Linked DNA regions of Homo sapiens: region 1 is linked to region 2. Evidence: fine-mapped expression QTL. A gene starts in region 2. The other region holds a variant in brackets. All regions are shown on one strand. Distances are from middle to middle. Region 1 has its middle 29 kb from the start of MYH16. Region 2 holds the start of ZNF394 (zinc finger protein 394).

What was found. PIP is the estimated chance that this variant, and not a neighbour inherited with it, causes the effect. A credible set is the group of variants that fine-mapping cannot tell apart.
Region 1: its variant is the best candidate, but not a certain one, in a credible set for the expression of ZNF394 in whole blood (TOPMed, PIP 0.86).

What each region holds. Positions count from the first base shown.
Region 1 is chr7:99,241,302-99,245,693 of GRCh38, reverse strand. It overlaps a transcript of MYH16 not described here. Among named protein-coding and RNA genes, the nearest start is that of MYH16, 29 kb to the left of the region's middle. The variant T/G (reference allele first, on the strand shown) is at 2,394.
Region 2 is chr7:99,497,942-99,502,333 of GRCh38, reverse strand. It overlaps ZNF394 (zinc finger protein 394), which reads left to right and starts at 2,053. Exons shown (of 3, transcript NM_032164.4): 1 at 2,053-2,696; 2 at 3,492-3,618. The coding sequence starts at 2,241. RefSeq lists enhancers at 2,443-2,722, 2,945-3,613.

The sequences.
Region 1 (4,392 bases), 260 kb after region 2:
TAGCTGGGCGTGGTAGCGCAAGTTTGTAATCCCAGCTTCTGAGGAGGCTGAGGCAGGAGAATCCCTTGAACCCGGGAAGCGGAGGTTGCAATGAGGTGAGACTGTGCCACTGCACTCCAGCCTGGGCAACAGAGCGAGACTCCATCTCAAACAAACAAACAAAAAACCCCAGAAAAACCAATTACATCATTAAATAAATTAAGAGCAGGAAGAATGAGTGAAGACAGGAAATGGCCAAATCTATGAATCTTAAATTTCTCTTCTCCTTGCTGGACAGTCACATTGACCTCTAAAGCATCCACCAAGTACTTGGTTTCAGTTCAACTTTAAACCCTTCCATTTTGAACCAAGTAAGAATAACTGCTCCCTATCCACCCCTGTCCCTGCCACCAGCTCCTCCTTAGCATAACTGGGATATGTTGAATTTTCAAAAGGAAACTTATTAAGTACAAACTGATCCACAGGAAAAAAGGCAAAGAGACGATGAAGGAAACCCAGTGGAACAGCTGAGAGTATGACACACAGTGTCTCATCCTGGGACACCAGCCATGGAGTCACTCTTCCCCTCCAGCCTGTCTCAGCCGTGGGGTGGGGGCAGACAGCATCCTGGAAGCCAGTTACCTCCCTGCTGTGGTCAGGAGGAATTGAGAGAGAAGCAGCTGGGATCATGGGAGCAGCCCTTGCCAGCTAGAGTTGTTGCATTAGTGGCTCTATTGAGGCGCTTTAATGTAGGAGGGGACTCCCTGCCCTGGTCTCTCAGGCTATACTCCACAAAGCCTGCAGTCCCTTGGCCCAAAGTCATGATGTGGTCACCCAGGAGGAACAAGGGCTTGCGGGCAGAGCAGCCCCAGGTAAGCCCTGGTCCTGAGCTTGACCTTTGAGCCTGTACCTTGACATTCTCAGCCCAGGCTCTAGGTTCAGCCGGGGGTGGGTGTGGCTCTTTCTAGACCTGGGGTTCAAGGATGCCCTGCTAACTTCCAGACCTAGCAAATATCTTCAAGAGATTTCAGAGACCTTCCAGCAACACCTGGGGCTATGGTACTACTGGGGCCTGAATCTAGAACCACAGTAGTAGTATTAAAGGAGGATGAATCTGGGGTCACAGAAGCCCTCTTGACTATAACCATAGACCCAGGGAAGGGGAACCCCCAGCAGCTCCTGACCTGGGAGTCAGGCTGCACCTCACCTATTCCTACCAGATAAGCCTCTTTCCTTTTAAATAAAGACATCTAGAGAGGCAAACACCAACACGTCCTTAGACAACCCATTTTGGGAGTTAAGCTGCAACACCTTCAGGAAATCATCTTTCTGTCTTAAGATTTCAAAGACACTCAGGGGACTGATTGTAACTCACTCTGGTCATCATGTCAGACAAAGTGAAACTGAATTTCTTCAAGGATGCAGTTGGTTGTCCTTCCTAAGTGCCTCAGGCTACAAGTCACATTTCCTCAATGTTTGTTGGATGGATGGGTGGATGAGTGTTTTGATTAATGAATGAATGGATGGATATTTGGATGTTTGGATGGGTGGATGAGTGGATGGATGGATGGATGTTTGGTTGATGGATGGATGGATGTTTGGATAGGTGGACGAATGTTTGGATGTTTGGACTGATGGATAGATGTTTGGACGTATATATGTATGGATCGATGTTTGGATAGGTGGATGAATAGATTGACGGATAGATGTTTGGATGGATGGATGGATGGATGGATGAATGTTTGGATGTTTGGGTTGATGGATAGATGTTTGGATGGATGGATAGATACTTGGATGGATGGATGGATGTTTGGATGGATAAATGTTTGGATGGATGAATGTTTGGATGGATGGATGTTTGGATGGATGGATGGATGAACGAATGGATAGATGGATGAATGGATGGATGGATGGATGGATGAATGAATGGATAGATGGATGAATGGATAGATGGATGGATGGACTTCTAATAATGGCACATGAAGTCACTAGGGGAAAAATGATGTTTTGATTTGAGAGTTTGAGGAAGAGGGGAGGAACATGAGGAGGAAGATTTTCGGGTGACAGCCTCAGCAAAAGCTGCTCACGGAGATGGTGCCATTACTGAGATGCCGAAGGCTTTGGGTGGAAATTCTAACATGTCAGAAACGTGGTCCCTGTGCCTTTGTCTAAGTCATAATGTGTACTGGGAGCTGGGGAGGGTGGAGTAGCCAACCCCCTCCTCAACAAAAGAAAAGCAGAAGATCTACAGCCACTCCTTCCTCCCCCCACTCACCCCATCCCTGGCACTCACATAGATCCTCATGTTGGTGTAGCGTTGGCGCAGATTGTCTAGGACACTGGCCTCATTCAGGAAGGTCATGTCTGCCATGTCACTGGCCTGGTAGAATTTGGGTGGGTTCATCTGCTGGATA[T/G]CATCCTTCTTCACAGTGAGTGTCTGGGGGGGTCAAGACACAGCAGCACAGGCATCAGGCATGGGGCATGGGGCATCTGGCCCAGGTCACCACATACCCTCTGGAGTCCCAGGAGATGGAGTGGAGCATCCAGTGGACCCAAGTCCTGGTCCAGCCACATCCCCCTGTGTGTCCTGGGATGGGGAGGCACTTCTGAGGCCAATGCAGCTTCAACTGCCTCCTCTCTGAAGTTGAGATGACAGTAGCCTCCTTGGCAGGTTGCTGGGAGAATTATATGAACTTAAGTGGAATCATGTAAAAATACCTTAAAAACTATGACGTTCCCTCCCTATGTTACAGAGACCTCTGGGCTCTGCTTCTCTTCCAGCCAAATCCATCCTGATAGATGATCAGAGCTTATTCTTTGATCCCATGGACACTTTGCAGAGATGTGACTCTTGGCTCTCTGCCTTGAGAGTTAGCGGTGATTTCGAAATAGCGATGAGCTTTTCCATTTCTCTCTCTCTTTTTTAAAGACTAAGTGCAGTAATGAGAAGGGTGGGGGGAAGAGTGGAACAAGGATTTTGATCTGTAACTGACCATGCACAATCAATTGAGATAACTCACTACCTTCAGACCAGCCAAACTTTTCCTTTTTAAATTTTTAATTTAATTTTATTTTTTGAGACATAATCTTGCTCTGTTGCCCAGGCTGGAGTTCAGTGGTACAGTCATAGCTCACTGCAGCTTCAATCTCTTGGGCTCAAGCCATCCTCCTGCCTCAGCCTCCCGAGTAGCTGGGACTACAGGTGCACACCACCATGCCTGGCTAATTTTTAATTTTTTTTTCTAGAGACAAGGTCTTGCTATGTTGCCTATGCTGGTCTTGAACTCTTGGCCTTCAATGATCCTCCCATCTTGGCCCCCAAAAGTGTTACAGGTGTGAGCCACCACATGTAGCCACTGTTCCACTTGAAAAAAAGACATTCCCCTGCTCCCTCCAAGCCACCTTCAAGGATAAAATTGAAAGCAAGCAAGAAAAGAAGAAAAAAAAGAAACCAGCAATGAGCATTCATCAGTAGGTGTGTTCGCGCCCGTGCCATGTGGGCAGATCTCTTCCCCATGCTGCACCCCAATTTCTTCATCTATAAATGAAAACTAGGCCGGGTGCAGTGGCTCATGCCTGTAATCCCAGAACTTTGGGAGGCCGAGGTGGGTGGATCACCTGAGGTCAGGAGTTCGAGACCAGCCTGGCCAAAATGGCGAAACCCTGTCTCTACTAAAAATACAAAAATTAGCTGGGCGTGGTAGCGCACACTTGTAACCCCAGCTACTTGGGAGGCTGAGGCAGGAGAATCACTTGAACCCAGGGGGCGGGGGTTGCAGTGAGCGGAGATCATGCCGCTGCACTCCAGCCTGGGTGATAGTGCAAGACAAAACAAAACTAAACAAAAAAAAAAAACTAGTGCCAGCTCTTAAGAAGCTCCAGCATCTGGGATCAAAGCTGAAGACATACGATCTAGAAAACAAATACCTTTTGGCTGCCTGCAACCTTAGATGTGAGGCCTGAATCCATACTGGGATTTCTGGGACTTTTAATAACTTATTAGTACAATAGGCAGATAATTTGAAATCTTGACAGTTCTGGAAAATCCACCCCCACTCCCCGTAATGGTTACCACGCCCTTAGTAAACCAAGCTGTTTTTTGTTTGTTTGTTTTTGTTTTGTTGTTTTTTCTGAGACAGAGTCTCACTCTGTCACTCATGCTGGAGTGCAGTGGCGTGATCTCAACTCACTGCAACCTCCGCCTCCTGGGTTCAGGCAATTCTCCTGCCTCAGCCTCCCAAGTAACTGGGATTACAGGCGCAGGCCACCATGCCCGACTAAGTTTTATATTTTTGGTAGAGATGGGGTTTCACCATGTTGGCCAGGCTGGTCTCAAACTCCTGACCTCAGGTGATCCACCCTCCTTGGCCTCCCAAAGTGGTGGGATTACAGGCGTGACCCACCATGCCTGGC
Region 2 (4,392 bases):
TAGTAGAGACGAAGTTTCTCCATGTTGGTCAGGCTGGTCTTGAACTCCCGACCTCAGGTGATCCCCTCGCCTCGGCCTCCCAAAGTGCTGGGATTACAGGCGTGAGCCACCGCACCTGGCTCCATAAGAGATATTTTTATGTCTAGTTATTAAACACACCTGGATTGATAAATAGTGTTCGGTTTGTTTGGGCGTGGGGTGGGGAGGGGGATTGCTTGAACCCAGGAGGCAGAGGTTGCAGTGAGCCGAGGTCAGGAAATCAAGACCATCCTGGCTAACATGGTGAAACCCCGTCTCTACTAAAAATACAAAAAATTAGCTGGGTGTGGTGGCACGCGCCTGTAATCCCAGCTACTTGGGAGGCTGAGATAGGAGAATCGCTTGAACCCGAGCGATACTCCCTCTCAAAAAAAAATTTTTTTATTTTTATATGGAGACACATCCTCTCTATGTTGCTCAGGCTGGCCTGGAACTCCTGGTCTCAAGCGATCGTCTCATTTTATGCAAGTTGCAAATCACCAGCAGCTTGACATCAACCAAGACACTTTGTTTTAGAGACAGAGTCTTGCTCTGTCACCCAGGCTGGAGTGCACTGGTGCGATCATATCTCACTGCAGTCTTTACCTCCTGGGCTCAAAGGATCCTCCCACCTCAGCCTCCCAAGTAAGTGGTGTATCCTGAGTTGGTTCCTTCCAGTGGGTTCATCCTCTCGCTGACTTCAAGAATGCAGCCTCCGACCTTCACTGTGTTACAGCTCTTAAAGATGGCACGGACCCAAAGAGTGAGTAGCAGCAAGATTTATTGTGAAGAGCGAAAGAACAAACCTTCCACAGCATGGCAGAGCACTCCAGCCGGTTGCCTCCGCTGACTGGGGTGGGAGCTTTTAGTCTCTTATTTGTCCCCTCCCATGTCCGTTTCTGTCGTATCAGAACGCCCTTTTTTCCATCCTCCCTGCGATTGGCTGCTTTTAGAATCCTGCTGATTGGTCCATTTTACAGAGCGCTGATTGGTGCATTTTACAAACCTCTTGCTAGCTACAGAGCGCTGATTGGTGCATTTTTACAAACCTCTTGTAAGACAGAAAAGTTGTCCAAGTCCCCACTGGACCCAGGAAGTCCAACTAGCTTCACCTCTCACTGGGACTACAGGTGTGCACCACCACACCCAGCTAATTTTTTATTTTTTGTAGACATTGGGGTCTCCAATTCTTGGCTTCAAGCGATCTTCCCCCCTCAGCCTCCCAAAATGCTGGGATTACAGGCATACGCCACTGAGCCAGGCCAGGACACATCTTTGAGCCTCAATTTCCTCATCTTTTTTGTTTGTTTGTTAGGATCAAAGTCGTTAACATCTGATGTACATGGAAGCACTTAGTTTTAAAAAAAAAACAAAACTTTTTCCAACTGGGCGCAGCGGCTCACGCCTGTAATCCAGCACTTTGGGAGGCCGGGGCAGGCGGATCACGAGGTCAGGAGTTCCAGACCAGCCTGACCAACATGGTGAAACCCCATCTCTACTAAAATACAGAAAGTAGCCGGGCATGGTGGCGCGCGCCTGTAGTCCAAGCTACTCAGGAGGCTAAGACAGCCTGGCGACAGAGCGAGAGTCCGCCTGAAAAAAGAAAAAAAAACAACTTTGTCCAACCTGGGCAATATAATGAAACCCCATCCCCACAGAAAAATTAATAAACCGGGCGTGGTCGCGCGCACCTGTAGTCCTAGATACTTGGGAGGCTGAAGCTGGAGAATTGCTTGAACCCGGGAGACAGAAGTTGCAGTGAGCCGAAATCGCGCCACTGCAGTCCAGCCTGGGCGACAGAGCCAGACCCTGTCTATTTAATCCTGAAGGTTCCCGCCCTTGCCGGAGCTCGGCCACCGGCTCGGACGCCCGTATTTCCTCGGGATGCGGGAAACCGTCAAGACCCTCTGCGTCGGGCGGGGCTAGGACGATAAACCAGCGAGATGCACCTCACCCCATCAGGCGCCTAGAGAGGCCCCGGAAATGCAGGGAAAGGTGCCGCAAGGCCTCGATGACGCGCTTCCGGCACGGGATGTTTTCGGTTGTTTGACCGAGAGAGTTGTAGGCGCAAAGCTGAGGAAAGGAGAGTGTGGAGAGGGGCCTGGTGTGGTGGGGCCCGGTGTTTGGGACCGGAGGGTGTTGACGGCTGATGAGTTCCTTGGGTTTGCTCTTTCTTCACCTGAAAAGAAGACTCCAGGAAGGGCAGCACATGCCGGAGAAAGATGAATTCCAGCTTGACCGCCCAGAGGCGCGGCAGTGACGCCGAGTTGGGACCCTGGGTGATGGCTGCGAGGTCCAAGGACGCGGCGCCGTCCCAACGCGACGGACTTTTGCCCGTGAAAGTGGAGGAAGACTCACCCGGAAGTTGGGAGCCCAACTATCCCGCGGCTTCGCCGGACCCCGAAACTTCTCGACTGCACTTTAGGCAGCTGCGTTACCAGGAGGTGGCTGGACCGGAAGAGGCGCTGAGCCGGCTCCGAGAACTCTGTCGTCGGTGGCTGAGACCCGAGCTGCTCTCCAAGGAGCAGATCCTGGAGCTGCTGGTGCTGGAGCAGTTCCTCACCATCCTGCCCGAGGAGCTTCAAGCCTGGGTGCGAGAGCACTGCCCAGAGAGCGGGGAGGAGGCGGTGGCCGTGGTGCGGGCTCTGCAGCGAGCGCTCGATGGAACCTCATCCCAGGTGAGAAGCGAAAGGCCTGTTCTGGAGGTGGGAGTGTGGAAAATAGGCGTTTAGGGGTGCTCTGCGTTTCGGAACTTACTTCCTTATTACATTTCGTGTGAACATTGGGGTGTGTATGGACTTCCTTTCTGTAGGCCACAGTGACAGATCCATCCAGGAAATGACTTGTTATAGACCTCAGCATAAAGCGAACACGGATTACTGGTTTTCTTTCTTTTTCTTTTCTTTTTTTTTTTTTTCTTGTTGTTCTTGCTGTTGTTTGAGATGGAGTTTCACTCTTGTTGCCCAGGCTGGAGTGCAATGGCGCGATCTCGGCTCGCTGCAACCTCTGACTCCCGGGTTCAAGCGATTCTCCTGCCTCAGTCTCCCGAGTAGCTGGGATTACAGGCGCCCGCCACCACGCCCGGCTAATTTTTGTATTTTTAGTAGAGACGGGGTTTCACTGTGTTGGCCAGGCTGGTCTCGAACTCCTGACCTCAGGTGATCCGCCCGCCTCGGCCTCCCAAAATGCTGGGATTACAGGCGTGAGCCACCGCGCCCGGCCTTGTTTACTTTTAATCTGTATCATATTTCCATTCCCATACATCACAGTGATATAAGTTAAAGAAATATTTTGCTCCTACCTACCTCCAAAATTAGTGTAAATAGTCCACAGAAAGGCTTTTCAGGATTACAAGAGAATGTCAGCCTCTATCTCTGATCTCTCCAAACTCCCTTGTCGGTACAAGACTCAAGAAGAGTGTTAGTGCTGTACAGGGACAGCAGGTACTGAATGGGGCTCTTGTGTTGTTCCAGGGGATGGTGACTTTCGAGGACACGGCTGTGTCTCTAACCTGGGAGGAGTGGGAGCGCCTGGACCCAGCACGGAGGGACTTCTGCAGAGAGAGTGCGCAGAAGGATTCCGGGAGCACAGTTCCGCCGAGTGAGTGCTGTTGCTCTGCTGGTTTATTGCGGTGTGTGGTTTGTGAAGGGCTGGTTCACTACCATCCCTGAGCCACTATGCCATTCCCAGACTTGGGCTGAGAGCCTTCAGGTGCCTTCTGTAACGCAAGCAGGAGCCTCTGTACTGCTAGGTGCTAGATTCAGCTTTTTACTTTGGTTCATTTTTAATGTTTTATACATACAGAAAACTATATAAAAAAAAGATAATGACCATCCCCTGTGTCTACCACCCAAGTTTATCAGATCTTAATACTTGGCCATATTGCCAAGGAAATAGTATGTTACAGCTGTAGGTGAGGCCCCCACATAGCCTCCCTGAAACCCTTCCCCTCTATCCTTCTCCAGAGGTAGCCAGTAAGCTGACTGTTGTGTTCATGACTTCCATGCATGTCTTATATTGTCTCTACATAGACACGTAGCTCCACGCTGTATATCATTACTGTATGGCTTTTTTTACTCAACATTACATTTTTGAGATTTACTCATGTTGATGCATGGAGCTCTACCTATTTCACGGTCCAGATACTCCAGAATTCTCTCCATTTCTGTTGATGGACATTTAGGTGTCTTAAGTTTTTAACCATTACAGCATTGCACCGAACATTCTTGTATATTCTTGCATATCTTTGTATATTTGTTTCTATGTTGGAGTTTTTGAAGAGAATATGCCTAGAGACAGGCAGTAGTCCCCCCTTCCTGGTTTTGCTTTCTGCGGTTTCACTTACCCACAGTACAATCAGATATTTTAAGACAG